Linked DNA regions of Homo sapiens: all the other regions are linked to region 4. Evidence: fine-mapped expression QTL. A gene starts in region 4. Each other region holds a variant in brackets. All regions are shown on one strand. Distances are from middle to middle. Region 1 overlaps MMS19 (MMS19 cytosolic iron-sulfur assembly component). Region 2 has its middle 47 kb from the start of PIK3AP1. Region 3 has its middle 12 kb from the start of FRAT1. Region 4 holds the start of MMS19 (MMS19 cytosolic iron-sulfur assembly component).

What was found.
Region 1: its variant is fine-mapped to the expression of MMS19 in monocytes (Quach 2016, PIP 0.95).
Region 2: its variant is fine-mapped to the expression of MMS19 in rectum (CEDAR, PIP 0.95).
Region 3: its variant is fine-mapped to the expression of MMS19 in monocytes after R848 (Quach 2016, PIP 0.95).

The regions. Positions count from the first base shown.
Region 1 is chr10:97,471,382-97,478,768 of GRCh38, reverse strand. MMS19 (MMS19 cytosolic iron-sulfur assembly component) reads left to right here. Exons shown (of 31, transcript NM_022362.5): 4 at 380-465; 5 at 840-914; 6 at 1,353-1,422; 7 at 1,806-1,934; 8 at 2,025-2,086. Among named protein-coding and RNA genes, the nearest start is that of MMS19, 23 kb to the left of the region's middle. The variant ACT/T (reference allele first, on the strand shown) is at 3,556.
Region 2 is chr10:96,763,753-96,771,139 of GRCh38, reverse strand. No RefSeq gene overlaps it. Among named protein-coding and RNA genes, the nearest start is that of PIK3AP1, 47 kb to the right of the region's middle. RefSeq lists a silencer at 5,165-5,254. The variant T/C (reference allele first, on the strand shown) is at 3,787.
Region 3 is chr10:97,303,332-97,310,718 of GRCh38, reverse strand. It overlaps the pseudogene RPL12P27. Among named protein-coding and RNA genes, the nearest start is that of FRAT1, 12 kb to the left of the region's middle. The variant G/A (reference allele first, on the strand shown) is at 3,404.
Region 4 is chr10:97,494,860-97,502,246 of GRCh38, reverse strand. MMS19 (MMS19 cytosolic iron-sulfur assembly component) reads left to right here and starts at 3,825. Exons shown (of 31, transcript NM_022362.5): 1 at 3,825-3,974. The coding sequence starts at 3,863. UBTD1 (ubiquitin domain containing 1) reads right to left here and starts at 3,323. Exons shown (of 3, transcript NM_024954.5): 1 at 2,974-3,323. The coding sequence starts at 3,043. RefSeq lists silencers at 2,704-2,903, 2,914-3,673 and enhancers at 3,914-4,083, 4,444-4,493, 4,170-4,700.

The DNA.
Region 1 (7,387 bases), 23 kb after region 4:
GTTGTCTATGCTACTTTTTTGTTAAAACAGCAGAGTTGAGTAGTTGGGATAGAGACCATACCCTGTAAGCCTATATTTACTGTCTGACCCTTTAGGAAAAAATTTGTGAACTCTAGTTCTGTAGAAAGGCAGTTTTGGGCTGAGAATGGGTTTTACTGTGGACCTGTATGAGAATGGATATTAAGAAATGTTCCCCTATTTTCCCGACTGATCAGGTGTCTACCTTCAAATGGGAAGGCACAGGACATGTCTCTTGGTGAAAGAGAAAATTTGTAGTGGAACCCAAACAGAAACAACTGTTATAGACTTAGGGAAGGAACAAAGCTCTTGGGCCCTTCTCGTGCCTATGTCAACTAATGGCTGAATCTGGTTTGTGCAGTGGTACACCTGATACTGTTCTATGAGAACCGGCTGAAGGACCATCATCTTGTGATCCCATCTGTCCTGCAGGGTTTGAAGGCACTTGTGAGTTTTCCTTCATTTCATTACATAACTTTGTTCAAGGGAGCCCTTGTCTAGTTCTCTCCTTGCGCTTTGGGTGTGATGGTTCACATGCTGAGGAGCAGGTGCCCAAGTGTGGGACTAAATTAGTGTTACCAGCTCTACTTCCGTTTTCCCTCTAGAGAGTAAAAGTGTACTTTGGGGGACTGGAAACCAGAGCCATCTGGAAAGAGCTGCAGAGAACTCATCAGCTTGAGAAAGAGTCTCACTATTAGTGCTTCTTCCTCAACCAGGATGCTGTGATTCTTACAGTAGCTAATTAGGCCTGTCGTAGGGTTGTGTCTTGGAGGCCATGCTGCAATTCCTTCGGTATTCACGTACCTTCTCCTCTCCCCCAGAGCCTGTGTGTGGCCCTGCCCCCAGGGCTGGCTGTTTCTGTGCTTAAAGCCATCTTCCAGGAAGTGCATGTACAGGTGAGGGATAACAGTCATGTTGGTATTCTCCTCTGTCTCTACCCCTTGACATAACTGGGATTCAATAGCAAAAATTATTGCCTTCTAAGTTCTGAATTCTTTTGGATCTTGTGAATGTTTTTATGCTCTTCTTCAGTATGTTTATATGCTCATCTTTGTTATTGGACAAGGAAAGGGGTGCATGCCATTAGATCTGACCTGTGTCCTCTTATACCTACAGAAAGTAAGGCATCCCTCTGTCAGGCAGGTTTGAATTATTGGCACCACTGCTGTGCTGCTGAGTCAATATCCATACCCTTTCTCTGTAGTTTCTCTTAGATTGATCTTATGCTGGTATAAAGAGCACTGTTCACTTAGAGATTATGAAGCAGGAACTAGCTGTGTCAGCTGAGGTATTCTTTGAGCATTTTCTTCACTTCTTTCTCCCCCACCCCCAAGTCCCTGCCACAGGTGGACCGACACACAGTCTACAATATCATCACCAATTTTATGCGAACCCGGGAAGAAGGTAAGAGACAGAGCTTTCTGGGAAATGTCAAAAGCAAGCACATCCTACTTTTTCCCCTATTAGTAGGACTCATTTTACCTGGGGTTATATAGAAGAGCTGGTATCCTGAGAGAGAATGATAAAGGGAAAGAGGGGGTCTGCTCCCTCCCAGTGAAGTAAAGAAAGGGTAGAGTTTGTTTGAGCCAGTGTTTTAAATTCTTGCCTCCACAGCAATGTGTATATTGTTGCACATCTCTTCACTGAGTACTTTCTTGGAATGGAAAAAGGGTCAGCCCTGAAGAGAAAGGGGAGGCAATGATAGCAGAGGGAGAACACAGGCTAGGAGAAAGCCCACACTTTCTGTGCTGTGGGACAGTATAGTAACCTTATTCTCTCCTTCCCAGAGCTAAAGAGCCTAGGAGCTGACTTCACCTTTGGCTTCATCCAGGTGATGGATGGGGAAAAGGATCCCCGTAATCTTCTGGTGGCCTTCCGCATCGTCCATGACCTCATCTCCAGGGACTATAGCCTGGGTATATCGTGGTAGCCATGATTAGCTCATTGGAGCTTTATCAGATGAGTGAAGCTGATAAACCAACCTCATTTTTTCTCTGTTGCCACAGGACCCTTTGTGGAGGAGTTGTTTGAAGTGACATCCTGTTATTTCCCTATCGATTTTACCCCTGTAAGTAGCACCTTCATTGTTTGATCATATATTTATTGAGTGTCTGCTATGTGCCAAGCCCTGTTCTGGGCACTGAGGGTACAGGTCACCAAAATAGACATCCCCGCCCTCATTATTTTATATTTTAATAAACTAGGAAATGGAAAAGCATTTGACATATGAGGAATGATTCAAAGCAGCATGTATTGGGGGGAATTCTTAAGCTCCTTAACACTGTATTTAGTGCTGAAGGCTACAGGATTGCAAAACACTGTCCCTGCCCTTGAAGGCTGAAACATTTAAGTAACAATAGGAGATTAGGTAGGAAAATGAGTAGTACTATAGCTGTTCAGAGAAGACAAAAGTTCAGTGTGAGCTAGAGTAGGCAGGAACTGACTTCACAGTTAAGATAGGATTTCAGCTGGTTTGTGAGGGATGCAGAAGATATGATTCTGGAGTTGGACAGGGCATCTCAGGCTATAGAAACAAAGTGACAAAACAAAGAAGGCACAATTGTGCACAGTGTACAGAAGGTATTTGCTCTGACCCTCTTGGGCCTTCCTCCCATTCTGCAGTTGAGTTCCCTTCTACTGCCAAATACTCAAGAGTTTCATCACCGTGTGGGTGTGTGTGCTGCAAGCATTAGTGGTTTGAAAGAAATAAAAGGCATTCTATTGCAGCATGCCAAACAGCATATTGACTCTCACTGCCTTTATAATGACACCACCATCTTTGCTGTAGGGAATTTCTTACCAGCTTATTTCAGTTGACATTATGTTACTGGGGACCACCTGTCTCCTGAAATGAATCTTTTTATCTCTTTCATAATCAGAATTCTTATTCTAACCCTATACCCTTGAAATCTTGAAAGATCCTGGTTTAGCTCCCACATTCTTCTGTTTTTACTTTGGTTTTTTTGGTGTGTGTGTTTCTTTTTTGTTTGTTTTGGTTTGGTTTTTGCTTTTTTGAGATGGAGTCTCGCTCTGTCTCCCAGGCTGGAGTGCAGTGGTGCGATCTCAACTCACTGCAACCTCTGCCTCCTGGGTTCAAGCAATTCTCTGCCTCGGCCTCCCAAGTAGCTGGGATTACAGGCGCCCGCCACCATGCCCGGCTAATTTTTTTTGTATTTTTAGTAGAAATGGGGTTTCACCATCTTGACCAGGCTGATATTGAACCCCTGACTTCGTGATCCAACTGCCTCGGCCTCCCAAAGTGCTGGGATTACAGGCGTGGGCCACCATGCCCAGCCTTTACTTTGTTTTATTTTGTGTTTTGTGTTGGTTTTGAAAAGATAATTCATTCACATGATTCAAAGTCCAAAAGGGTGAGAAATCTCCCTACCATCTTTTTTTCTCCATAATCAACCAAGTTATCAGTTATGTTTGTATCTTTACAGAGCTTTTTCATCTATATGTAAGCAAATGCTTTTACCACCACCCCCCTAAAATCAATGTGTGCACATGCGGGCATGTACACACACACACACACAC[ACT/T]TCTCCTGTACTTTGCTTTTTTCACTGAACACTATGTCTTGGAGAGTGTTCCACGTCAGTATATAAGTTAGCTCTTTCATTCTTTATGGCTGCATAATATTCCTTTGGCCGGAAATAATGAATAATTTCACTAGTCCTCTGTGGATTGTTGCTAATCTTTTGCTGTTATGAGCAGTGCTACAACTTTCATACATATGAATATAATGATAGAATAAATTCCTAAAAGAAATCGCTAGGTCAAAGAATATGTGCATTTATAATTTGGGGGAGAGGAACAGTATTTCATCCATTTTTTTGAAAGGTTATACAATGAGCATGATTCAGCATTTAAAGGGTAGATAATTAAACTTCTTTCATACCCCTTTACTGCTACTGTCCATTTTCCCATTAGAAACAATCACTGTTCACAGCTGTTTATTTTCACAGAGATAATCTAGGCAAAATAAACTTACAGATAATATTAGGAAGATTTCTCTCATTCAAGCAGATTTTTGTATGTTGTTCTGCACTGCAGTCTATCAGAAGCAGAAAGCTCTTATCAAGATATTAATTAAAACAGAGACACTTGGCTTTAGTGTAACTATTTGAGTTACAAATACTCTTTATTGTCTTACAAATCAGGGTTTTTATTGTTGTTGGTTCTGTTCTGTTTTGTTTTGTTTTTCAGACAGGGTCTCACTCTGTTGCCCAGGCTGGAGTGCAGTAACACAATCCTTGCTCACTGCAACCCCTGCCTCCGGGGTTCGAGTGATTGTTGTGCCTCAGCCACCTGAATAGCTGGGATTACAGTACGTGCCACCATGCCTGACTAATTTTTTTTTTATATTTTTTAGTAGAGATGGGGTTTTGCCATGTTGTCCAGGTTGGTCTCGAACTCCTCACCTCAACTGATCTACCTGCCTCGGCCTCCCAAAGTGCTGGGATTACACGTGTGAGCCACATATCCAGCCACAAATCAGTATTGTGTGCCATCATAGTGGATCTGATGAGCTTAAGGTTCAGTTTCTTCACTATGCTTATATGCTCACTCTAAGAAGAGGTTGGCAAACTTTTTCTTTCCCTTTTTTTTTTTTTTTTTTGAGGCAGGCTGGAGTGTAGTGGCACCATCACAGCTCACTGCAGCCTCCACCTCTCTGGACTCTGGTACTCTGGTGATCCTCCCACCCCTGCCTCCCGAGTAGCTGGAACCATAGGCACATGACACTACTCCCGACTAATTGTTGTATTTTTCTATAGAGACAGGATTTTGCCATGTTGCCCAGGCTGGTCTTGAATTCCTGGGCTCAAGCCATCCACCTGCCTCGACTTCCCAAAGTGTTGGGATTACAGGCATAAGCCACCATGCCTGGCCAACTTTTTCTATAAAAGGCCAGACAGTAGCTTTGTGGGTCATATGGTCTCCTCAACTCTGCTGTTACTGCACAAAAACAGCCTTAGACACAGGAACAGCTACAGTAGCTATATCCCAATAGAACTTTTGTTATCAACACTAAACTTTGAATTTCATATAATTTTCACTTGTCACAAGATATTCTTTTGGTTTGTTTCAAACATTAAAAATGTTAAAACCATTCTTAGCCAAACAATGTCAACAGGTTGATTTTTACTCCTAATGCAGAGTAGATATTGGTTCTTCCTTCACCGTCATCCTAGATTCCCTTATCCTTTTTCTTGGATCAGATCTCCTGTTTCCTGAGTTCACATATTCCTCATTTTGTGGTTTACCCCCTCAGTTTGATGGTGTACTTCCTTTAGTATTTTCCTGAGAGAATGTATGAAGAAGTGAGAATTTTTTAGATTTGTAACCCTTAAATGCCTTCAATCTTGTCTCTCATTTTTGACATTATGGGCATGTAATTCAAGAATAGAAATTCTAGGCCGGGCGCAGTGGCTCACACCTGTAATCTAAGCACTTTAAGAGGCCGAGGCGGGTGGATCACTTGAGGTCAGGAGTTCGAGACTAGCCTGACCAACATGGTGGAATCCCGTCTCTACTAGAAATACAAAAATTAGCTAGGCGTGGTAGCAGGCGCCTGTAATCTCAGCTACTTGGGAGGCTGAGGCAGGAGAATTGCTTGAACCTGGGAGGCGGAGGTTACAGTGAGCCGAGATCACGCCATTGCACTCCAGCTTAGGCAACAAGAGTAAAACTCCATCTCAAAAAAAAAAATAAATAAAAAGAGAATTCTAGCTGGATGCAGTTGCACATGTCTGCAGTCCCAGCTACTTGTGAGGCTGAGGCAGAACAATCACTTGAGGCCAGGAGTTTGAGGCTGTAGTGCACTATGATTGCACCTGAGAAAGAGGCCAGGTGCAGTAACTGACGCTTGTAATCCCGCTACTTTGGGAGGCTGAGGCAGGTGGATTGCTTGAGCTCAGGAGTTCAAGACCAGCCCGGGCACCATGGCAAAACCTTGTCTATAAGAAATACAAAAATTAACTGGGCGTGGTGGTCGAGTCTGTAGCCCCTGCTACTCGGGAGGTGGAGGTGGGAGGATGGCTTGGGCTGGGGAGGCAGAGGTTGCATTGAGCCAAGATCATGCCTCTGCACTCCAGCCTGGAAGACAGAGCCAGACTCAGTCACCAAAAAACCAAAAACAAAAACAAAAAAAAAATGGAAATTATTTTCTCCTAAGATTTTGAAGGCATTGCTACATTTAAATCTAGTTATTGGCTGGGCGTGGTGGCTCATGCCTGTAATCTCAACACTTCGAAAGGCCAAGGCAGGCGGATCACCTGAGGTCAGGAGTTCAAGACCAGCCTGGCTAACATGGTGAAACCCCATTTCTACTAAAAATACAAAAAAATTAGCCGGGCATGGTGGCGTGAGCCTGTAATCCCAGCCACTCGGGAGACAGGCAGGAGAATCGCTTGAATCCTGGAGGCAGAGGCTGCAGTGAGCCAAGATCGTGCCATTGCACTCCAGCTTGTGTAACAAGAGCAAAACTCCATCTCAAATAAATAAATAAGCCTAGTTATCTAGTTTTCATTTGCTGTGGAGAAGTCTGAATTTCTTCTGTTTCATAAACTTTTGTATTTACCATTTTTTTCTTCCTCTCTATAAACTGATGTTTGGTTCACCCCGATACATTGAAACTTCACAGTGATGTGCCTTAGTATTGGTCTATTTCATGTACTGTGTTGGGTACTTAGTAGGCCCTGTCAATCTGGTAACCCGTGTCCATTAGTCCTGTAAATTTTTCTTGAATTCTTTAATTGATGATTTCTTCCTCTCTCTTTTCTCTGTTCCTTCATTTTGGAACTCTCATTAATCTTCTGTTGGACCTCTGATTTTCTGACCTTTTGTTTTCTATTTTGTACCTCTGTCTTTTTGTTACTTTATAAGAGAATTCCACAGTTTTATCTTTTCTATCAAAGTCCAGTCATGAAAACAGAAACCAGGCCAGGTTCGGTGGCTTACGCCTGTAATCCCAGCACTTCGGGAGGCTGAGGTGGGTGGATCATTCGAGGTCAGGAGTTCCAGACCAGCCTGGCCAACATGATGAAACCCCATGTCTACAAAAAATATATAAAAATTAGCCAGGTGTGTTGGTGCGCCTGTAACCCCAGCTACTTGGGAGGTTGAGACATGAGAATCACTTGAACCTAGGAGGTGGAGGTTGCACTGAGCTAGGATCAAGCCACTGCAATCCAGCATGGGTGACAGAGTGAGACTCTGTCTCAAAAAAAAATAATAATAATAATAGTAAATCCCTTCTTTTACTATGTTTTTGGTGGAGTTTGCAAAGAGGAAAAGGAAAACCTGATATATGTTTTCAGTCTGTCGTCTTGGTACAGAAACCATCAAGGCTTTCTGTTTTCAGAATTAC
Region 2 (7,387 bases), 730 kb after region 4:
AACTGACTATGGTAGGGATTTAGCTTATACTTTAACTTTAAAACAAAGATGACAACAAGTGCTTCCCAAAATTAATGCACTCCTTGCTCAGGGATTGAAACCTCCTTTGTAAAACTAACAAGGTTAGAATTATGGTTCAGGAGTCATGTAGCTGGAGGTCACAAGGTTTGTAGCCTCCCCAGTTGCTCCTATAGACAACAGCACTATTGCAAAATATCAGATTGGTGTTTGAGGTATTTTTCAGACCTTACGTTCTGATGGACCAGCTGGCTCCACTTAGACCAGTAACCCATACCAAGAAACTAGCTCAGTTGGTCTTGTGACCCCCACCCAGGAACTGACTCAACACAAGAAGACAGCTTCATCCCCTATGATTTCATCGCTGACCCAATCAATCAGCACTCCTCATTCTCTAGCCCCCTGCCCACTGAGCTATCCATGAAAAACCCTACCCTCCAAATTCTTGATGAGGTGGATTTGAGAATTATCTCTCATCCTCCAGCTTGGCTAGCCCCACAATAAGCACACTCTTTCTTTCTTTCTTTTTTCTTTTTTCTTTTTTTTTTTTTTGAGAGGGACTCTTGCTCTGTTGCCCAGCCTGGAGTACAGTGGCACAATCTTGGCTCACTGCAACTGGGTTGCCTCCTGGGTTCAAATGATTCTCTTGCCTCAGCCTCCCGAGTAGCTGGGATTACAGGCACCCGCCACCACATCCAGCTAATTTTTTTGTATTTTTGGTAGAGATGGGGTTTCACCATGTTGGCCAGACTGATCTCTAACTTCTGACTTCAGGTTATACGCCTGCCTTGACCTCCCAAAGTGCTACTTGGGAGGCTGAGGTGGGCGGATCACTTGAACCCCGGAGGCGGAGGTTGCAGGGAGCTAAGATTGGGCCACTGCACTCCAGTCGGGGCAACAGAGTGAAACTCTATCTCAAACAACAACAAAACGGAAACTTATTGGCTGGGTGCAGTGGCTCACACCTATAATCCCAGCATACTGGGGAGGCCAAGGTAGATAGATCAATGAGCCCAGGAGTTTGAGACCAACATGGTGAAACCTTGTCTCTACAATAAATATAAAAATTAGCTGGGCATGGTAGTATGAACCTGTAGTCTCAGCTACTTAGGAGACTGAGGTGGGAGGATCACCTGAGCCCCAGGAGGTCAAGGTGGCAGTAAGCCATGAACGTGCCACTGCACTCCAGTCTGGAGGGCATGAAAAAAAAAAAAGAAATGGAAACATATTAATCCCAAACCAGTGTCAATAAGTTGGGGAAGAAGAGGAGCCATTGAAAAAGATTTTTTTTATTGTTTTATTTATTATTTTTTTTTGAGACAGAGTCTCTCTCTGTTACCTGGGTTGGAGTGCAGTGGTGTGATCTTGGCTCACTGTGACCTTTGCCTCCCGGGTTCAAGTGATTCTCCTTCCTCAGCTTCCCGAGTAGCTGGGATTACAGGCGCATGCTACCATGCCCAGCTTATTATTATTATTATTATTTGTATTTTTAGTAGAGACAAGGTTTCACCATGTTGGCCAGGGTGGTCTTGAACTCCTGAGCTCAAGCAATCTGCCTGCTTTAGCCTCCCAAAGTGCTGGGATTACAGGCGTGAGCTACCTTGCCTGGCCCCTAGTCTTAACTTGTAATAGATACACAATAATTATTTTTAAATTAATTTTTTACAGTAATTATTAAATGAATGAATGAATAAACAAACACTTGAGGCACAGTCTGATGTATTAGAAAGAACGCAGGCTTGGAGTTGTATTAGCCTGTGTTGAATCTTGGCTTTTTGGTGTGTGGCCTTGGGTAAGCTACTTGACTTCAGTATCCATCCCAAAAATGGATTCATGGTTCCTCTCTCTTAGAATCATTAAATAAATGAAATGAAATTAAATTAATTAAATTAAATGGAACAATGCATATGCATACTTATGTCAAAGCTGGCATTCTTTTTCCTATGGGTGAGCATGTAAGGTAGCTCATATTAAGCCTAACTTCTACTATAAAAGGGGAAACCCCAAAATAGGACTCATAAAACCAATGCCAGAGACTAGAGCATAAATTCTATATTATTCTTTGGGGTGACTTCTGTTCCTCTGTGCTGCATTCTGGGAATTTTCTTCTGACCCCTGCTCCATTCACTGATTGATTTGACTGTAGCTAATAAAGTATAAACCCATCTGTTGAGGGTTTTTGTTTTGTTTTTTTGTTTTCTGAGACTGAGTCTCACTCTGCTTCCCAGGCTAGAGGGCAGTGGTGTGATCTCTGCAGACTGCAACCTCCGTCCCCTGGGTTCAAGCAGTTCTACTGCCTCAGCCTCCCAAGTAGCTGAGATTACAGGTACGCACTACCACACCTGGCTAATTTTTATAGTTTTAGTAGAGATGGGGTTTCACCATGTTGGCCAGGCTGGTCTGTAACTCCTGGCCTCAAGTGATTCACCCGCCTAGGCCTCCCAACCATCTGTTGAGTTTTAGGTTTTTATTATTATACTCATGTAATGTAGTAAATTACACATAATATGAAATGTATTTTTTTCTGAAAACATGTCAGTTTCATATAAAACTTATTTTAAAACCTTTAAAAGTGTATAGTTCTGTAGCATAAATATATTCACATTGTTGTGCAACCATCACATCCATCTATCTGCAGAACATTTCATTTTCCCAAGCTGAAACCCGGTACCCATTAAACCAGGGTACAGAGACCTGTATCAGTCCGTGGTCTGTTAGGAACCGCGTCACACAGCAGGAGGTGAGTGACGAGTGAGGGAGCAAACCTTCATCTGTATTTACAGCCGCTCCCAGTCATTTGCGTTACCACGTGAGCTCCGCCTCCTGTCAGATCAGCAGCGGTATTACATTCTCATAGAAGCATGAATTCTACTGTGAACTGCACATATGAGGGATCTAGGTTGCCCACTGTTGATGAGAATCTAATGCCTGATGATCTGTCACTGTCTCCCATCACCTCCGGATGGGACTGCCTAGTTGCAGGGAAACAAGCTCAGGGCTCCGAAGGATTCTACATTATGGTGAGTTGTATAATGATTTCATTATGTATTAGAATGTAATCATAACAGAAATAAAGTGCACAGTAAATGTAAGGCCCTTGAATCATCCCAAAAATATCTTCCCCTCCCATACCTGTCCATGGAAAAATTGTCTTCCACAAAACCAGTCCCTGGTGCCAAAAAGATTGAGGACTGCTGCATTAAACAATAACTCCTGATTCTCTTCCCCCAACCCCAGTCCTTAGTAACCATTGTTGCACTTCCTGTCTCTGTGAATTTTATTACTCTAGTTACCTCATATAAGTGGAATCATGCAATGTTTGTCCTTTTGCATCTGGCTTACTTCACCTAGCGTATCTCATCCATGGTTCATCCATGTTGTAGCATGTGTCAGAATGTCCTTCCTTTTAAAGGCTGACTCATATTACATTGTATGTATATCACGCATTTTGTTTATCCATTCATCAGTTGATGAACATTTGAGTATGTATATCACACTGTATATATATCTGTATGTATATCACACATTTTGTTTGTTCATCCATCAGTTGATGAACATTTCAGTTGTTTTCACCTTTCGGCTATTGTGAATAATACTGCTATGAACATGGGTGTATAAATATCTGTTCAAATCTTTGCTCTTAATTCTTTAGTATGTATATCCAGAAGTAGAATTGCTGGATCATGTGGTAATTTTGTTTAAATTTTTGAGGAACCACTATAGTGTTTTTTTGTTTTGTTTTGTTTTGTTTTGTTTTGTTTTTTGAGA[T/C]AGAGTCTTGCTCTGTCGCCCAGACTGGAGTGCAGTGGCCTGATCTCTGCTTACTGCAAGCTCTGCCTCGCGGGTTCACACCATTCTCCTGCCTCAGCCTCCCAAGTAGCTGGGACTACAGGCACCCACCACCAAGCCTGCTAATTTTTTGTATTTTTTAGTACAGACGGGGTTTCACCATGTTTGCCAGGATGGCGTCAATCTCCTGACCTCGTGATCCGCCCGCCTCGGCCTCCCAAAGTGCTGGGATTACAGGTGTGAGCCACCACGCCCGGCCTTTTTTTTTTTTTTTTTTTTTTTTTGAGACGGGAGTCTCGCTCTGTCCGCCAGGCTGGAGTGCAGTGGCGCCATCTCGGCTCACTGCAAGCTCCGCCTTCCAGGTTCACGCCATTCTCCTGCCTCAGCCTCCCGAGTAGCTGGGACTACAGGCGCCGGCCACCACGCCCGGCTAATTTTTTGTATTTTTAGCAGAGACAGGGTTTCACTGTGTTAGCCAGGATGGTCTCAATCTTCTGACCTCGTGATCCGCCTTTCTCGGCCTCTGAAAGTGCTGCGATTATAGGCGTGAGCCACGGCGCCCGGCCTTTGGCCTCATAATTCTTTATTTCCTTCCTAGGTCTCTTATTACTTTTAATATTTACCCAACCTTTTTGAGTCATCCATAATGAATGTATAGTTCATTTGATTTGATTTGATTTATTTTTTTGAGATGGAGTCTCGCTCTGTCACCCAGACTGGAGTTCAGTGGTGTGATCTTGTCCCACTGCAGCCTCCACCTCCTGGGTTCTAGTGATTCTCCTGCCTTAGCCTCCCAGGTAGCTGGGAGTACAAGCACGTGCCACCACACTTGGCTAATTTTTGTATTTCTAGTAGAGACGGAGTTTCACCATGTTGACCAGGCTGGTCTCAAACTCCTGACTTCAGGGGATCTGCCCGCCTCGGACTCCCAAAGTGCTAGGATTGCAGGAGTGAGCCACTGCGTCTGGCCATGAATGTATAGTTCAAATACCTAGTCCACTGACCTTGCCTTTTAAAACAGTTGTGTCTGGGCTCAGTGGCTCAGGCCTGTAATCTCAGCACTTTGGGAGGCCAAAGCAGGAGGATTGCTTGAGTACAGGAGTTCGAGACCAGCCTGGGCAACATAGTGAGACCCTGTTTCTTCGAAAAATAAAAAAAATTAGCCAGGCGTGGTGATGCCTGCCTGTAATCTTAGTCCTTTGGGAGGCTGAGGCAGGAGGATCACCTGGGCCTGGAAGGTTGAGGCTGCAGTGAGCTATGACTGTGCCACTGCACTCCAGCCTGGGCAACAGAGAGATCCTGTTTCAAAAAAAAAATTAGTCCTCAATTCATTAGGAGTGTGGTTTACATGAATCGCCAGTAAAAGGAACATAGGGCTTGAATAGGCACTTATCTTTACCTGTATCTCACTGCCAGGGTGAAATCTAAAGCATTTATCACTAGTCCGGCTGAGGCACCTTCAGAACAGATGTTGGTGTAGGGTTGGAGCCCCCTGCTGGCAGCCTCCTGCTGTGCGTGACATTACTCCTTTGGGGGAGTCTCAAACGGGGACCCAGGAAGTTACAGGGAAGGGATGATAAAGGCCACTTGGAAGAACTGGGCAGTGACTGTTGATTAACAGTACGTAAAAGTAAGTAAAGGTGTTTCCATTTTAATGCAGCACATGCTGTCTTATTCCCCTGGGAAGACAAGCCTGGTACAAGGAACTGTGTGTGTAGTTTACTGTGGACAGTGGTGATACCAGGGAGCAGGGGTGGAGACTAAGGAAACTGACCAGGGAAGAAGGAAAACCAAGCCAGTCACATTGGTGACTGCAGTGGGCACGGGGGCTTCCATCCCAACAGCAACTTCTGAGGAGTTGTATACAGATAGTGCCTCAAACTGACCACCCAATGGATGAAAGGCAGAAGTTGTAAGTGTTCCCCCATGAACTCCCATCTAGCATTGACAGAGGGTCATCTTGAAGGTTGTAACGCCCTTGCGCTTGTAGGTTTCACATCAGCGAGTGCCGGGGTGCTCCCGCAGGCACGTCGCACCACAGCATCGGAGAACCTTGCGGGGTCAGGGGAAGATGTACAGCGCATGCTTGAGGTGAGGCAGGGCCACAGGAGGTGAGTTGAAGCCTGCATAGAATTGTGTCCTCAAATAATAGCAGGAATCGAGGTGTGGCCAAGAGGATCCAAGGCAGTGCGTGGAGCACCCAACACTTAGGCATTCCTCAAGAACCTTGTGTTCGGCAAAATCAAGCAGTAAGAGTAATAGGGCTTATGGGGAAAATAGGGTTAGAGGCAGATCACTCGTAATCTGTGGAAATCTGTAACCAGAATGCTAATAAAAATAGTGGTTTGCACATAAGGAGATAACTTGGACTGCCCAGACTGCCTCAGTGTGGCTGGAGACTGTCACAGTAGATATTTAAAATGTTCAATGTGATAGAGTGGGAACATGCTGGCAACACTTTAATTAGAGCTGGTCTGGCAAGTGTTGAAAGAGTGCAGATGGTGGTGGGCTCTGAGTGCTAGTCAGGTGGATCCAGGAAGCAGTGCAACCTGGCTGAGAGCTGGGGAAAAGGGCCCTGGGTGTGTGTGCTCATTGCCATTTTCCTAAAATACAGCTGAAAGGGCTCATGCAATTAGTGTAGCAGCTGAGCTGAGCGCTTCTTCCTTCCCTGATGATGGCTATAATTTTACTTCTGCAGTGAGCTGATTCCCATAACAGAAATGTGCATTCTAGCAGAACAAATGTCTTTCTGGGTCTCACTGTATGGTGAGACTGTGGTGCATACTGATTAAGTATTGGCCCATTTCACTGCTCCCGTGGGCTTGGCTTGCTCCATGCTGATACCGCACTTCCTCATTTCAGCCCTCAGACTCTGAGCCATTGCCCACCAGGTTTCCAGATGCAGTACCCTCTGTAGCTCCTCACCTGCCATTTCGAATCCTGTTTATTGACAGGTGTTAATGTGGACAGCCTATTTATTAATGAACTTCTCCGGCTTAATTTATAAGCCTTTCTCCTCCCATGAGAATGTTCCCCATTTCCCTCATAACTGCCCCCATGAGAATCCCTGATGAGTGAGCTCTGGTGCTTGGACTCCATCTCCCTCTCTTGCTTCAGATGTACCCATTATACATCAAAATGAGCTGCATAGGAGGCCAGCTGCCTCCTGTAATCCCAGTGGCTCACACCTGTAATCCCAGCACTTTGGGAGGCTGAGGCGGGTGGATCACCTGAGGTCAGGAGTTTGAGACCAGCTTGGCCATCATGGCGAAACCCCGTCTCTACAGAAAATACAAAGATTAGCTGGGTGTGGTGGCGCATGAGAATCACTTGAACCTGGGAGGCGGAGGTTGCAGTGAGCCGAGATCATACCACTGCACTCCAGCCTGGGAGACAGAGAGACAGAGCCAGACTCCTAAAAAAAAAAAAAAAAAAAAAAAAAAAACAGAGCTGCATAGGGATGAAGGAGATGAAAAACAAAGCTACCAGTAAAAAAGCAAGTCAGTCATTTATCACAGCTATGGTAAACAATCATTTTTCTAATTATTGAACAAATAAAAGAATAACAGTAATAATACAATGA
Region 3 (7,387 bases), 190 kb after region 4:
AATCTCGGCTCTCCACAACCTCTGCCTCCCGGGTTCAAGCGATTCTCCTGCCTCAGCCTCCCAAGTAGCTAGGATTACAGGCATGCTGCCACCATGACCGGCTAATTTTGTATTTTTAATAGAGACGGGGTTTCTCCATATTGGTCAGGCTGGTCTCTAACTCCTGACTTCAGATTATCTGCCTGCCTCGGCCTCCCAAAGTGCTGGGATTACAAGCGTGAGCCACCGCGCCTGGCCAAATGGGCCATATTATGTGATACCTTTGGAAAGTAACCCTGTGAGGAAGGGGGCAAGCCTGTCTCTTTTTCTTTTATTTTGTTGCCTGGATCTTTTGAAGGCCCCAGACATGGTCCTGGACTGCCTACCTCTGGATCTTTTTTTTTTGAGATGGAGTTTTTGCTCTCATTGCCCAGGCTGGAGTTCAGTGGCCCGATCTCGGCTCACTGCAACCTCCGCCTCCCAGGTTCCAGCCATTCTCCCACAGGTGCACCACCACACCCAGCTAACTTTTTGTATTTTTAGTAGAGATGAGGTTTCATCATATTGGCCAGGCTGGTCTTCAACACTTGACCTCAGGTGATCTGCCTGCCTTGGCCTCCCAAAGTGCTGGGATTACAGGCGTGAGCCACCGTGCCTGGCCCTGTTTGTTTGTTTTTAAAAACACATTTTTTGCTTTCAGCTTTTGGCTCAGAAGAGGCCAAGGTGCAACTTTCTTTGGTCGTCCTGAATCCAGGTTCATCCAATACCAGCCGCCTCCACCATGCCGCCGAAGTTCGACCCCAACAAGATTAAAGTCGTATACCTGAGGTGCACCGGGGATGAAGTTGGTGCCACTTCTTCACTGGCCCCCAAGATCAGCCCCCTGGTTCTGTCTCTAAAAAAGGTTGGTGATGCCATTGCCAAGGCAACAGGTGACTGGAAAGGCCTGGGGATTACAGTGAAACTGAACATTCAGAACAGACGGGCCCAGATTGAGGTGGTGCCTTCTGCCTCTGCCCTGATCATCAAAGTTCTCAAGGAACCACCAAGAGACAGAAGAAACAGAAACACATTAAACACAGTGGGAATATCACTTTTGATGAGATCATCAACATTGTTTGACAGAGGCGTCACCAATCTTTAGCCAGAGAACTCTCTGGAACCATTGAAGAAATCCTGGGGGACGGGCACGGTGACTCACGCCTGTAATCCCAGCACTTTGGGAGGCCGAGGCGGGCGGATCACGAGGTCAGGAGATTGAGACCATCCTGGCTAACATGGTGAAACCCCATCTCTACTAAAAATACAAAAAAATTAGCCGGGTGTAGCGGCTTGCACCTGTAGTCCCAGCTGCTGGGGAGGCTGAAGGGAGGCTGAGGCAGGAGAATGGCATGAACCTGGGGAGGCGGAGCTTGCAGTGAGCCCAGATCGCACCACTGCACTCCAGCCTGGGTGACAGAGCAAGACTCCGTCTCAAAAAAAAAAAAAAAAAAAAAAAATCCTGGGGACTCCCTAATCTGTGGGCCATAATGTTGATGGTCGCCACCCTCATGACATCACAGATGACATCAACAGTGGTGTTGTGGAATATGCCCAGCTAGTGAAGAAGCACAAAACAAAATATTTCAATAAAGGATCATTTGAACAAAAAAAAAAACAAACTTTTTTTGGCTGGGCGTGGTGACTCACGCCTGTAATCCCAGCACTTTGGGAGGCCGAGGCAGGTGGATCACGAGGTCAGGAGTTCGAGACCAGCCTGACCCACATGGTGAAACCCCATCTGTACTAAAAATGCAAAAATTAGCCAGGCGTGGTGGTGTGCACCTGTAATCCCAGCTACTCAGTAGGCTGAGGCAGGAGAATTGCTTGAACCCGGGAGGCAGAGGTTGTAGTGAGCTGAGATCGTACCACTGCACTCCAGTTTGGGCGACAGAGCGAGACTCTCTCAAAAAAACACAAAAAACACAAAAAACAAACATTTCTAAAAATACAAAAATTAGCCGGGCATGGTGGTGCATGCCTGTAGTCCCAGCTACTCGGGAGGGTGAGACAGGAGAATCACTTGAACCCGGGAGGCGGAGGTTGCAGTGAGCTGAGATTGCGCCACTGCACTCCATCATGGGCAACAGAGCGAGACACCATCTCACACACAGAAAAAAGTATACAACTGAATGGTTTTTAGATATTTACAGAGTTGTGTAACCATAATCTAATTTTAGAACATTTGCATCACTCCTAGAAGAAACTTTGTACCCACTAGCTACATTGGATATTTATTTTATTCCTGGTACCCTGAAAATTGCTTTAAGGATATTATTTCAGTTAGTCTTCCAAAAACCTCTGAATTTGGTATTATTATTCCTTTTCATGGATAAGAAAACCAAGGCCCAGAAATAAGTAAACTTGCCCAGAATTACACATATTTCTAGTGCCAGGCCCAGGATTCAAACTCAGTTTTGATAGATGCCAAAGCCTGCCCTTCTCAAACCACTACCCAGATGCCATAACCCAGCCTCTGGAGTCTGGTCTTTTAGCTCTGCCTTATTATGTTCCTCAAGGCACACTGATTCTTTCTTCAGTGCCTCAGCTGGTGGTTCTATTTCGGTCCTACTGCCCGATGCCCTTAATGTTTTTTTGGCCAGGTTCATGCATCTTGGGTCAGAACCCCGGCCTCTTTCCCTTTAATCCACTCTTCTGACAGATCAACTTCCTAATGCCCAACCCTGCTCAGGTTACCCACGGCCTCCCCTCTGAACAGGTCCACATGGCCTCTGGAGTAAACTCTTCCACTCCTTAACACAGTGTCCAGAACTCTCAGGGGGGCTTGCCCTGGTCCACTCCTCCAACTTTATCTTGTCCTCCACCTCCACATAAACCTTTTGTTCGTGTCAACTGGGCCCTTGCCAGCTTTCAAAAACATCTTACATGTTCCTATCACCCCATGTTTGTTCCTGCTCTTTGTGTAGAGAATGCACTCCCTGAATTCCACCCATCTAAATCTTAGTCCAGCTACAAACCTCCTCATGCAGCTATCTCTGCTCTCACCAAGAGTCAGTGGTTCCTCCCACTCTCCTTCTTCCCACTCTCTTTGGTTCCTCCAAGTGAGCCCTTACCACATACCTCCTTTCTATAGTGAGTTGGGCTGGTCTAGACTGTCAGATCCATGAATCTAGAGGTTAGGTTCCTCTGATTTGCCAGGCCTGTGTCGCTTGCCCACTCCTGTAGCCAGAAATGGGATCAATGCCACTTAAAACACATGGACTGAGGATAAAGGAGCATAAAGGAGCAGAGAACCTCTACAGAGATGCTGCATGCATCAGAACAAAATCCTATGTCCAATATAGGCAGGATGTGTTTTTTCCATAAGATCTAAATAATCTCATTGTTTCTATGCATTTTTTTTTTTTTTTTGAGACAGAATCTG[G/A]TTCTGTAGCCCAGGCTGGAGTGCAGTGGTGTGATCTCGGCTCACTGCAACCTCTGCCTCCCGGGTTCATGCAATTCTCCTGCCTCACCCTCCCAAGTAGCTGGAACTACAGGCACCTGCCACTACGCCTGGCAAATTGTATTTTTAGTAGATATGGGGTTTCACCATATTGGCCAGGCTGGTCTTGAACTCCTGACCTTGTGATCTGCCCGCATCAGCCTCCCAAAGTGCTGGGATTACAGGCATGAACCACCGCGCCCGGCCAGGAATCTTTGGTTTGATTCATTTGTTCCTTTATTCATTCAACAAATAGTTGGCTAAGTAAAGCCAAATGTGTCACTTGACCAGCCTTAAAATAAAAAAGATCCTTTTTTTTTTTTTGAGATGAAGTTTCGCTCTTGTTGCCCAGGCTGGAGTACAATGGCGCGATCTCAGCTCACCACCACCTCTGCCTCCCGGGTTCAAGCAATTCTCCTGTCTCAGCTTCTCAGGTAGCTGGGATTCCAGGCTCATGCCACCACGCCCGGCTAATTTTTGTATATTTAGTAGAGATGGCACATTGGTCAGGCTGGTTTCTAACTCCTGACCTCAGGTGATCTGCCCACCTTGGCCCCCCAAAGTCCTGGGATTACAGGCGGGAGCCACTGTGCCTGGCCGAAAGATTCTTAAGTCATGAAGCTACACTCCAGTAGAAGACAACACCACTCAAGCAATCATATAAACACATCTAGAAATGCAGCAAATGTGAAATGGCAGCCTGGGACAGAGTTCTTGAGTTCTCCAGAAGTTGTTTAGGTTTCCTAATCAAAATGATTATGTGGAATTATGTTAACTGGGCAACAAGCATTTTCTTTCACAATTGGAAGCGGTCCTTATTCCAGGCCGGGGGTGGTGGCTCACGCCTGTAATCCCAACACTTTGGGAGGCTGAGGCTGGTGGATCACCCGAGGTCAGGAGTTTGAGACCAGCCTGACCAACATGGTGAAACTCCATCTCTACTAAAAATATAAAAATTAGCCAGGCATGGTGGCAAGTGCCTGTAATCTCAGCTACTTGGGAGGCTGAGGCAGGAGGATCCCTTGAGCCCAGGAGGTGGAGGTTGCAGTGAGCCAAGATTGTGCTACTGCACTCCAGCCTTGGGGACAGAGTGAGACTCCATCTCAAAATAAATAAATAAATAAACAAATAAATTCACATATTTCAGAAGAGGTAGTTTTGTATTTAATTCACATTAAAGTGTAAGTGAATGAACAAAAGCAGCTCTTTTGATAACTCTGAAAGAAGGTAAGTCCTATGGATGGGAATGACTAGATCCCTGGATGGGGATGTGTAAGCCTAAGGAGCTGAAGGACAATTTCCTTTATTTCTGATTTTTTTTTTTTTTTTTTTTTTTTAGACAGGGTTTCACTCCTGTCACCCAGGCTGGAGTGCAATGGTGTGATCTCAGCTCACTAAAACCTCCACCTCCACGGCTCAAGCAATTCTCCTGCCTCAGCCTTGAGAGTAGCTGGTACTGCAGGTGCAAGCCATAGCACCCAGCTAGGTTTTGCACTTTTTTTGGCTGGACGTAGCGGCTCCCGCCTGTAATCCCAGCACTTTGGGAGGCCGAGGTGGGCAGATCACCTGAGCTCAAGAGTTCGAAACCAGCCTGGCCAACATGGTGAAACCCCGTCTCCATTAAAAATACAAAAATTAGGCCAGGGGTGTTGGCTCATGCCTGTAATCCCAACACTTTGGGAGGCCGAGGCTGGCAGATCACGAGGTCAGGAGATCGAGACCATCCTGGCTAACATGGTGAAACTCCGTCTCTACTAAAAATACAAAAAATTAGCCGGTGTGGTGGTGGGCGCCTGTAGTCCCAGCTACTTGGGAGGCTGAGGCAGGAGAATCGCTTTGAACTTGGGAGGCGGAGGTTGCAGTGAGCTGAGATCTCGCCACTGCACTCCAGCCTGGGCAACAGAGCGAGACTCCATCTCAAAAAAAAAAACACCCACATAAATTAGGCCCAGCGCAATGGCTCATGACTGATTGCCTGAGGCGGGCAGATTGCCTGAGGTCAGGAGTTCAAAACCAGCCTGGGCCACATGGTGAAACCCCATCTCTTTTTTTTTTTTTTTGAGACAAAGTCTTGTTCTGTTGCCCAGGCTGGAATGCAGTGGCGCCATCTCAGCTCACTGCAAGCTCCACCTCCCGGGTTCATGCCATTCTCCTGCCTCAGCCTCCCGAGTAGCTGGGACTACAGGTGCCCGCCACCATGCCCAGCTAATTTTTTGTATTTTTTAGTAGAGATGGGGTTTCACTGTGTTAGCCAGGATGGTCTCGATCTCCTGACCTTGTGATCTGCCCGACTCACTGGGATTACAGGTGTGAGCCACCACGCCAGGCCGGTGAAGCCCCATCTCTACTAAAAATACAAAAAATTAGCTGGGTGTGGTGGTGCACTCCTGTAATCTCAGCTACTCAGGAGACTGAGGCATGAGAATTGCTTGAACCCAGGAGGTGGAAGTTGCAGTGAACTGAGATCGTGCCACTGCACTCCAGCCTGAGTGACAGAGCAAGACTCTGTCTCAAAAAAGAAAAAAGAAAAATGAAATAAATAAATAAAAATTCTGTTTTTTGTAGAGACAGGGTTTGCCATGTTGCCCAGGCTGGTCTTGAACTCCTGAGCTCAAGTGATCCACCTGCCTCGGCCTCCCAAAGTGCTGGGATTACAGGTGTGAACCACCATGCCTGGCCTTACTTTCTGATTTTGAATGGGGGAATCTTTGAAGCTGACTCTGAAGCCTCCATATCTAGAGGACAGAGAGGTGGGGAAATATTAGTGCCTTTCCTGACCTTCATCCTACTTCCTAATCACTATAGAGACTTTATGTGCAAAATTTCTCTTCATACCAAAACAAACTCCATGAAAATGGGTTACAGTGGTAGGAAAAAGGGATCTGTGCATCAGTTCACAAGACCATGGAGGCAACATCCAACGTAGTGGGCTCACAATGTACTGGCTTGCTCTTGACTATCACAAATGTGTTACTGCTTTGAAACTTCCCACCAGCCCCTGTGGCCTTCTGACCTGAGGCCTGGGTTAGGGTCTTAGTTTGTTCTCTGTTGCTTATAGCAGAGTTCCTGAAACCGGGTAATTTATAAAGAAAATAAATTTATTTCTTACAATTATGGAGGCTGAGAAGTTCAAGGTCAAGGGGCTGCATCTGGTGGGAGCCTTCTTGCTGATGGAGACTCTGTGAAGAGTCCCAAGATGGTACAGGGCATTACATGGCAAGGAGGCTGAGTGTGCTAGCTCAGGTCTCTCTTCCTCCTCTTTCTTTTTTTTGAGACGGAGTCTCGCTCTGTCATCCAGGCTGGAGTGTAGTGACGCGATCTCGGCTCACTGCAAACTCCGCCTCCCGGGTTCACACCATTCTCCTGCCTCAGCCTCCCGAGTGGCTGGGACCACAGGTGCCTGCCACCACGCCCGGCTAATTTTTTGTATTTTTAGTAGAGATGGGGTTTCACCTCTTAGCCAGGATGGTCTCGATCTCCTGACCTCGTGATCTGCCCGCCTCGGCCTCCCAAAGTGCTGGGATTACAGGCGTGAGCCACCACACCCGGCCTTTTTTTTTTTTAGACAGAGTTTTGCTCTTGTTGCCCAGGCTAGAGTGGAATGGCATGATCTCAGCTCACTGCAACCTCTGCCTCCCAGGTTCAAGCGATTCTCCTGCCTCAGCCTCCCGGGTAGCTGGGATTACAGGCACCCACCAGTACACCTGGCTAATTTTTGTATTTTTAGCAGAGACAGGGTTTCACCATATTGGCCAGGCTGGTCTCAAACTCCTGACCTCAGGTAATCAACCCGCCTCCACCTCCCAAAGTGCTGGGATTACAGGCGTGAACCACTATGCCCGGCCTCTCTTCCTCTTCTTGTAAAGCCACCAGCTTGGCCTGGTGCGGTGGCTTCATGCCTGTAATCCCAGCACTTTGGGAGGCCAA
Region 4 (7,387 bases):
ATTCATAGTAGGACCCACAGAACTAAAGCAATGATAAACTAGCAGGTAAAAAAAAAAATGCAGATATATGAAAAATGCAGATGGTAGGATGAAGTTGAGTTTGCTTTCTAAAATCAACAAATACTGAGTGCTACTTCTGTACAACTCATTGTGTTAAGTGCTGAATGTGTGTGTGTGCGTGAGAGAGACATATACTACAAGGATAAGACAGAACCCAGGTCTTCAAGGCTTGCAATGTAGTTGCTGATAAAAGACTGTAAACATCAAAGACATGATTAATAATACAGAGTACATAATTGTTAAGTAAGTGGCATAGATAATGTGTCTGCAGGAGTTCTCAGAAGGAGCAATCACTTCCACGGGGTGTGTGTGGTGGGGTGCGGAGGGAGGGGGAAATGGCAGACTTGTCAGGCAAGGTGCTTCAAACAAGGCACGGCACTTGAAATGAACCCAAAGGATGAAAGACTCTCGATAAGAAGGAAATGGCACGAGCAAACACTGGTGGTCTTAATGTCAGAGAAGGGAAAGAAATCAGGACTTAAAAGAAAGGACTGGCCCACACTTGAACAGCCTTGAAAGTTAAAGTACTTGTAGGAGTGGGAAAATGCAGAAAGGTGTTTTGTTGTTGTTGTTGCTGTTGTTTTGTTTTTTTTTGAGACAGAGTCTCGCTCTGTCACCCAGGCTGGAGTGCAGTGGCGCAATCTCAGCTCACTACAACCTCTGCGAAACTTCCAGTTCAAGCAATCTCCCTGCCTCAGCCTCCTGAGTAGCTGGGATTACAGGCGCCTGCCACCACCATGCCTGGCTAAGTTTTGTATTTTTAGTAGAGACAGGGTTTTGCCATGTTGGCCAGGCTGGTCTCGAACTCCTGATCTCAGGTGATCCACCTGCCTTGGCCTCCCAAAGTGCTGGGATTACAGGCATGAGCCACCACGCCTGGCCAAGTACAGAAACATTCTGAACACAGAACTATAAAATCTGGAAGAAGTTAATTTAACAAATGTCTTCTGTGGGGACAACTGTGTGTAGGACTGAATGATGACTGAAGATGAAGTTGCCTTTGGGGGGTACCTCACTTCAGCCTGAGACAAGGGTTGACTTGAGGTGAGAAGGGTACAAAGTAGGGTGGCAAGGGGCAGGTTTGCAAGTCCCGCGGAAGGAAGACCCAGCAGACCCCAATGACTGGCTGAGAGGCAGGCGACAAGGAAGCAGAGAAAGTCATGAGAGAAAGAGCTCTTCACAGCCTAAAGTTAGGCAGCTGGAAGAACATAAGAGTAAAGAAGGAAAGCTGGTGGACAGGGAGCGATGCAGAGCCTGGTTTTGGAGGTGTTAAATCTGGGAATATCTATATCACAGTGTCCAGTGGGCATCTAGAGATGGGGTTCTGGGGTTCAAGAGAGAAGAGCTGAAGTTTAAGCATAGGGGTATTCCCAATGGACAAAGAGTTGTGGGACTGAACAAGATTTCTCTGGGAGAGAGTGTAATGAGAGAAAAAACAGAATGTCAAACTTAAGCACCAGCGTGCCCCCAAGCTAGAAGGTGATGGTGGAAAGGGGTGTTCAGAAAGGAAAACCAAGACAGTCTGATGCCAAGAAAGGAAGGGGGGGAATGTCTCGTAGGAGAGAGTTGTCAACAGCAAAAAATGCTGCAAAATCAATTATGGGGCCTGAACACATATTTGTTGAACAAATGAATGAATGAAAGCAAGCCAGCCCTTGGTTTTGAGAGTCATCTCTCCTCAGCCAGAAGAATGGCCAGAGTTACCTTCAGACAAGAGAATTTCAATAAGTTTTACTGCATCCTTCCCATAAAAACACATTTCTGCCTCCACAAGTCATCCTGTCCACCATGCAGACATCCTTCCCTGCTTCCCCTGGTTCCCCCATCTTCCTTCCCAGTTTCCGCAACCCAAGCAACACACCTTCGGTGTCAAGGGAGACAGGAAACTCCAACTAGAGTTTCCACTTCATTAACAACTCTGCCTGTGGCTCCTCTTACATAAGGGGATATGTGGCAATGGGGTGGGAGAGGAGGCTGAGTTCTAGCCCCAGGTGAGCTCCTAACTAGCTGTGTGACTTTGGACAAGGTGTTCAACCTCTCAGGATCTGGGCTTTGACACAGAGTAGGAGATGGGTCCATCTGGAATCCAGACAAGTTTGAGCTCTCAAGTCTACGATATTATTCCCAGCGGGTCCTTGCAACACCCTCAAAGAAGGAAGTGAGTGTAAGACCCAGAAAAATGACCGACAGACCTCTTCCCGGGGCGAAATGCCAGGGCAGGCGGGGTGTACCATGAAAGTGAGAAAGCGTTGCGCGGGCCTGGAGGATCACCAGCGAGCGATCTCACTCCCAAAGCTGGGAAGGATCCCAACAATCCCAAGGGTGACTCTCACCCCGCACCCCATCTTTTATAGACTCCCAGACGGCCGAGAGGCTCTAAAAACCCCTGCGGGAAAAATAAAGATTTCTTTCCCAGAGTCCTGCGCTGCTTTGCAAGTCGGATTCCCGCAGACACGATCTGCAGCTCGATAATGACACAGTCTTTGGAAGGAGCGACTGTTCTCGCCTCGCTCGCTCCGAGTTCTGGGGACGCCTGGCTGCCCGCGCCGTGCCCCGACGGGCCGGCGTCCGACCCCGGCCGGAGCTGCCAGGCCAGCGGCGCCCTCGCCCCCGGCCTCCTCCCGATCCGTCGGCCCCGCTGCGGTCTGCAAACATTTCCTGCCCCCACCCCCACCAGGAGCTACCCAGTTGGAGAGAGTTGGTCGCGCAGCCGGCTCAGTGCTCGCAGTTGCCCCAACTCAGCTCCCCCGGCCGCCCGGCGCTGGGGAGCGGCCCCCTCTGGCTGCGGAGCAGCCCATCGGGGAAACCCAAGCGCCAGCACCAGTGGGGAGTCCATCGGTAAGCCCAGGACTCGGGCGAGGAGGGGGACAACTGGCGGGATGCCCGAGGCCCTGCTCCCTTCCCCATCGTTACCTGCTCGCTTGCGGGGGTGTCCCGGGGCTGCCGGCCTCTCCCGGCGCTGTCTCCCCACGCAGTTGCCCATGCTGGCTCCTCAGCCAGTCCCCATGCACCGGAGGCGGCGGGGTGGTCGGCTGCTCAGCGGACGGCGGCGTCCCGGGTCAATGGCTCCGGCCGCCCGGCATCGGGCGCTCCCCGATCTCCCCCCGGGGGCGCGCTCAGCCCCAGCGATGGCTCCGCCAAAACTTTGCGGGCCAGGGGAGAGAGGGAAGTGGCAGACTCCCCAGCACGGTCCCAGGTGGCCGGGCCAGGGGGGCCCGCGACGGTGCCCGGCCGGAGACCAGCTCCGCTGGAGGGGCGGAGAGAGGGGGCGGGCACCGCCGCAGCTACTCCCGGCTCGCTCGGGGCACCAGGCAGGGGCCGGCCCCCTGGAGCCTGTCACTCACCTGCCTAACCCCGCCCCAGGCCGGCCCCTCTCCCTTCCGCCGGCTCGCGGTGCCCGCGCCGCCGCCACCACCCGCCCCAGGTGCGCATGTGACCGACAGCACCGCCCCCTAGGGCTGGGCCTGATTTTCTCATTGGCTTCCCCCGTGGTGCGTACCGCCCCTCTCCCCACCCAGCCAGGTGCCCGCCCCGCAGCCCGTCTCCCGGGGAGCCGGGCTGGGAATTATTCGCCCTCAATCGCCTCCGGCTGCGTGCCCAGCAGCCGCCTTCCCTCTCGGTGCCACCGCCCCATTTCAGGCCCCGCCCCTCCCTGGAACTGCCTAGGCAGAAGCCGGCAGGCACGTGACCCCGGCGCCCCGCCCCCTTGCGCTTCCCCGGAGATTGGCTCGGGAGGCGCATGCGCGGAGAGCCCGTCTCGAGCCACCGCCCATATCCCCTCCCACGGTCTCTAGTTCGCGTTATGGCCGCTGCCGCGGCTGTGGAGGCGGCGGCGCCTATGGGTGCCCTATGGGGCCTCGTGCACGACTTCGTCGTGGGTCAGCAAGAGGGCCCCGCTGACCAGGTGGCTGCAGGTACGGCAGACGGCGCCGCGCGCCTTCCGCATGGGGGCCAACAGGAGGGAGCGGCCTCAGTACAGGCGCCGGGCGGGAAGGGAGGAGCGGGGTGACTTTGAGAGATTGGTCTCAAGGCTGGTTAGTGAGCACCGCGAGGTTCAGAGCCGTAACAAGTTAGAGAGTTGCCTGTGTCTTCCTTAAAACCATTTACACTTCTCATCTCCCTGTAGCCAATTATAGGGAATCATTACATTTTACAGATGAGGAAACTGAGGCTCAGCGAGGGCAAGAGGACTTGCGCAGGGCTGCAGACCAGGCAGGAGGGGGAGGTGGGACTCGGACCCAGGCGTTCAGGTCCGAACCGGGTGCTCACGCCACGAAGCCATGCTGTTTGTGGGAGGTTGACGTGTGGAGGTGCATCCTCGCAGCGTCCGCTCCCGTCGCGTGGCATCCTGGGAGTGGCAGATGGCCCCGCGCTCTGACTGGCTGGAATTAAGAGGAGTTGAGGAGACGGGCCAGGAGGAGCTGGAGATGTTCTGGGTGTCCTCCTTAAGACTTTCTCTCCGTTTCTTGCTAAAGTTCTTGATTAGTTTGCTCCATGACGTTTTATGTGGCGTTTGTTTTTGTCTTCTTCCCAGACCCCCACTTTCCTGCTTTTGACCAGTTCAGAGATCTCTTAGTTCAGACAGCTTATCTAAAATTAGAATAAAACGATTTCCAGGCTTCCGTGGAGTTCTGAGACTTTGCTCTTCTAGGAAAAAAAAAAAACTACTAAAAAGTTATTGAATGTTAGGAGGCCTTCAGATCTTGGGTTTAAGTAACAATATAAAATTATCTAATGAGTAGTTTTTTTAAAAAAACTTTGGAAATTTCGTATGCTTGGAGAGAAGTAAGGACACATTTCTCTTGGATATTGAGCGTATTAACCTTTAGAATATGTAAGAAAAGAATAGTGAATCTGCTAGAAATATAATACTTTGTTCGTTAGCAGTATTCCACTTTAATTCAATCATGCCACTATTGTTGAATACATATTATTCCCCAAACATGATGCAAAGCAATAGGAATATAAATACAAATTAGGTTAGATCTGTGCCCACCAGGAACTTATAGTATGCTGGGAGAGGCAACCATTCTGTAAGAGGTGTGTGCAGCGTAGTTTGGAAGCATCAAGGAGCAAATACCTGGTGCTGCCACCAAACTTAACATCTTACAATTTTATGAAATGTAGTGTGTTATCAGTGTTTACAATTTACAAGTACAGTGTCTTACCAATGTCATTTTCCCTCATATTTTATTATGAAAATTTTCGAATATCCAGCCAAGTATAAAGAATTTTATAAGGAGCACATCACTTAGGATCTATCCTACCATTAACATTTTAATATTACTTGCTTTATCATATAGCTATCCATCCATTTAAATTGCAGATACCTGTACACTTTCCTTTAAATACTTTGGCATGCATGTCATTGACTAGAGTTTGTTGACGGTTTATTTTGATGTAAAATGGAATATATAAACCTTTAAGTGTACGTTCACTGATTTTGACTAATGCATACACCTATACAATCCAACCCCCTACGAAGATATAGAACATTACTATATCAGTGTCATTTGTGATGAGTCTTTCACATTTATGCGATACGAAAACAATAATTTTGGATTTTTTTTTGATTCAGAACATATTTTGAAAAGACATCTTGAATGTCTTATCTTGAATAAGGACTTATCTTGAATAAGGACTGCAAATTCTTCTCTTTTTTTTTTTTTTTTTTTGAGACAAGGTCCCTCTCTGTCTGCCAGGCTGGAGTGCAGTGGTGAAATCATGGCTCACTGTAGCCTCGACCTATGCTCAAGCAATCCTCCTGCCTCAAGCCTCCCGAAGTAGCTGGGACAACAGGGAGTGTGCCACTGCGCTCGGCTAATTTTTGTATTGTAGTGACGAGGTTTCACCATGTTGCCTAGGTTGGTCTCTAACTCCAGGACTGAAGCCATCCTCCCATCTCAGCTTCCCGAAGTGCTGGGATTACAGGCATGAGCCACTGGGACTGCTAAATTCTTACAAACGTTTTTGCAAAATTTATATTTTTGTTTCTTTCTGAAAAAAAATGGTCTAAACTGTTGCTTAATTTGAATTCAACTCAACTGATTTAAGACTGTAACACTAGCCCTGTTGTAATTTAGCCCTCCTAAGAAAAGAAAGTTGGTGGTGGGCACAGTGGCTCACGCCTGTAATGCCAACACTTTGAGAGAACAAGGTAGGCGGATTGCTTGAGCCCAGGAGTTTGAGACCAGCCTGGCCAACATGGTGAAACCCCGCTCTACTGAAAATACAAAAATTAGCCAGGCATGGTGGTGCATGCCTGTAATCCCAGCTACTCAGGAGGCTGAGGCTGGAGAATCGCTTGAGCCTGGGAGGCAGAGGCTGCCGTGAGCGGAGATCGCGCCCCTGCACTCCAGCCTGGGCAACAGAGCGAGACTCCGTCTCAAAAAAACAAAAAGAAAAGAAAGTTGGTACAAAGGAATAGTAACAGATAAAAGTTGAAAAGGTTTGGTAGGGTTGGATTGTGTATAACTTTGGATTCCAGGCAGAGAAATTTGAATGACCTGTTATCTGTACTAAGAGTTGTTGTAGATCCTTGAGCCAGGGAGCCATAAAATGAAAACAAATTTGACAAGGATTAAGTTAATATTGTCAATCTTAGATCACAGCCCTAGTTAGGGTTGTTGAAGGATAACAGAGTGTTGAAGCGTTTATAGAATAAGATGTGCTTTCTAATCTTTCAGCCTAAATCAAGCTTTGTTAGCGCTAAAGGGACCAGCTAGCTTCCTGTTCAGTCACTCAGAGTAGCAGCCTGCAAATTTAAATGCAGAAGGAGCACCCTTTGATCACAAAAGCAGCTGCTGCCACCTTTGTTTTGTACCTGGGTTCCTGGTGAAAGTGTCAGCTGTAAAGAAGCTGCAGGCGATGGGAGGGAAATAACCTGGCAGCCTAAGGGTTAAAGGCCTCTTGGGCAAGCCTTCAAAGCCTGCCACTACCTGGCCCCAGCCTTTTTTTCTCACTGCTCCCTGGACGTTTAATTCCAGGCAGCCACCTTTATTCGTAGTTCCCTGAGTGCTTTCCTTCCCAATTCCCTTCACTAGCTCTGTGTAATCGAAGTTAGACCTGAGAGTCAAGGCCCAGCTTGAGTTCCCTACCCCTCCCCAAGGGTTTCCTGATTAACCCAGCCAGACAGCATCTCATACGTCAGAATCTTTGTAGTACGCACTTATTTCTCAACCACTCATGTATTTAGTGGACTAGTTTAGTAGCTGTTGCTGTATACATCTCCACATCCTACCCTCCCAGTTGTACCACCAGAATCTCCTGAAATTGGCATCAGTAGGTACACAATAAAAACTGCTTGAGTGAATGCAATGAGAAATGT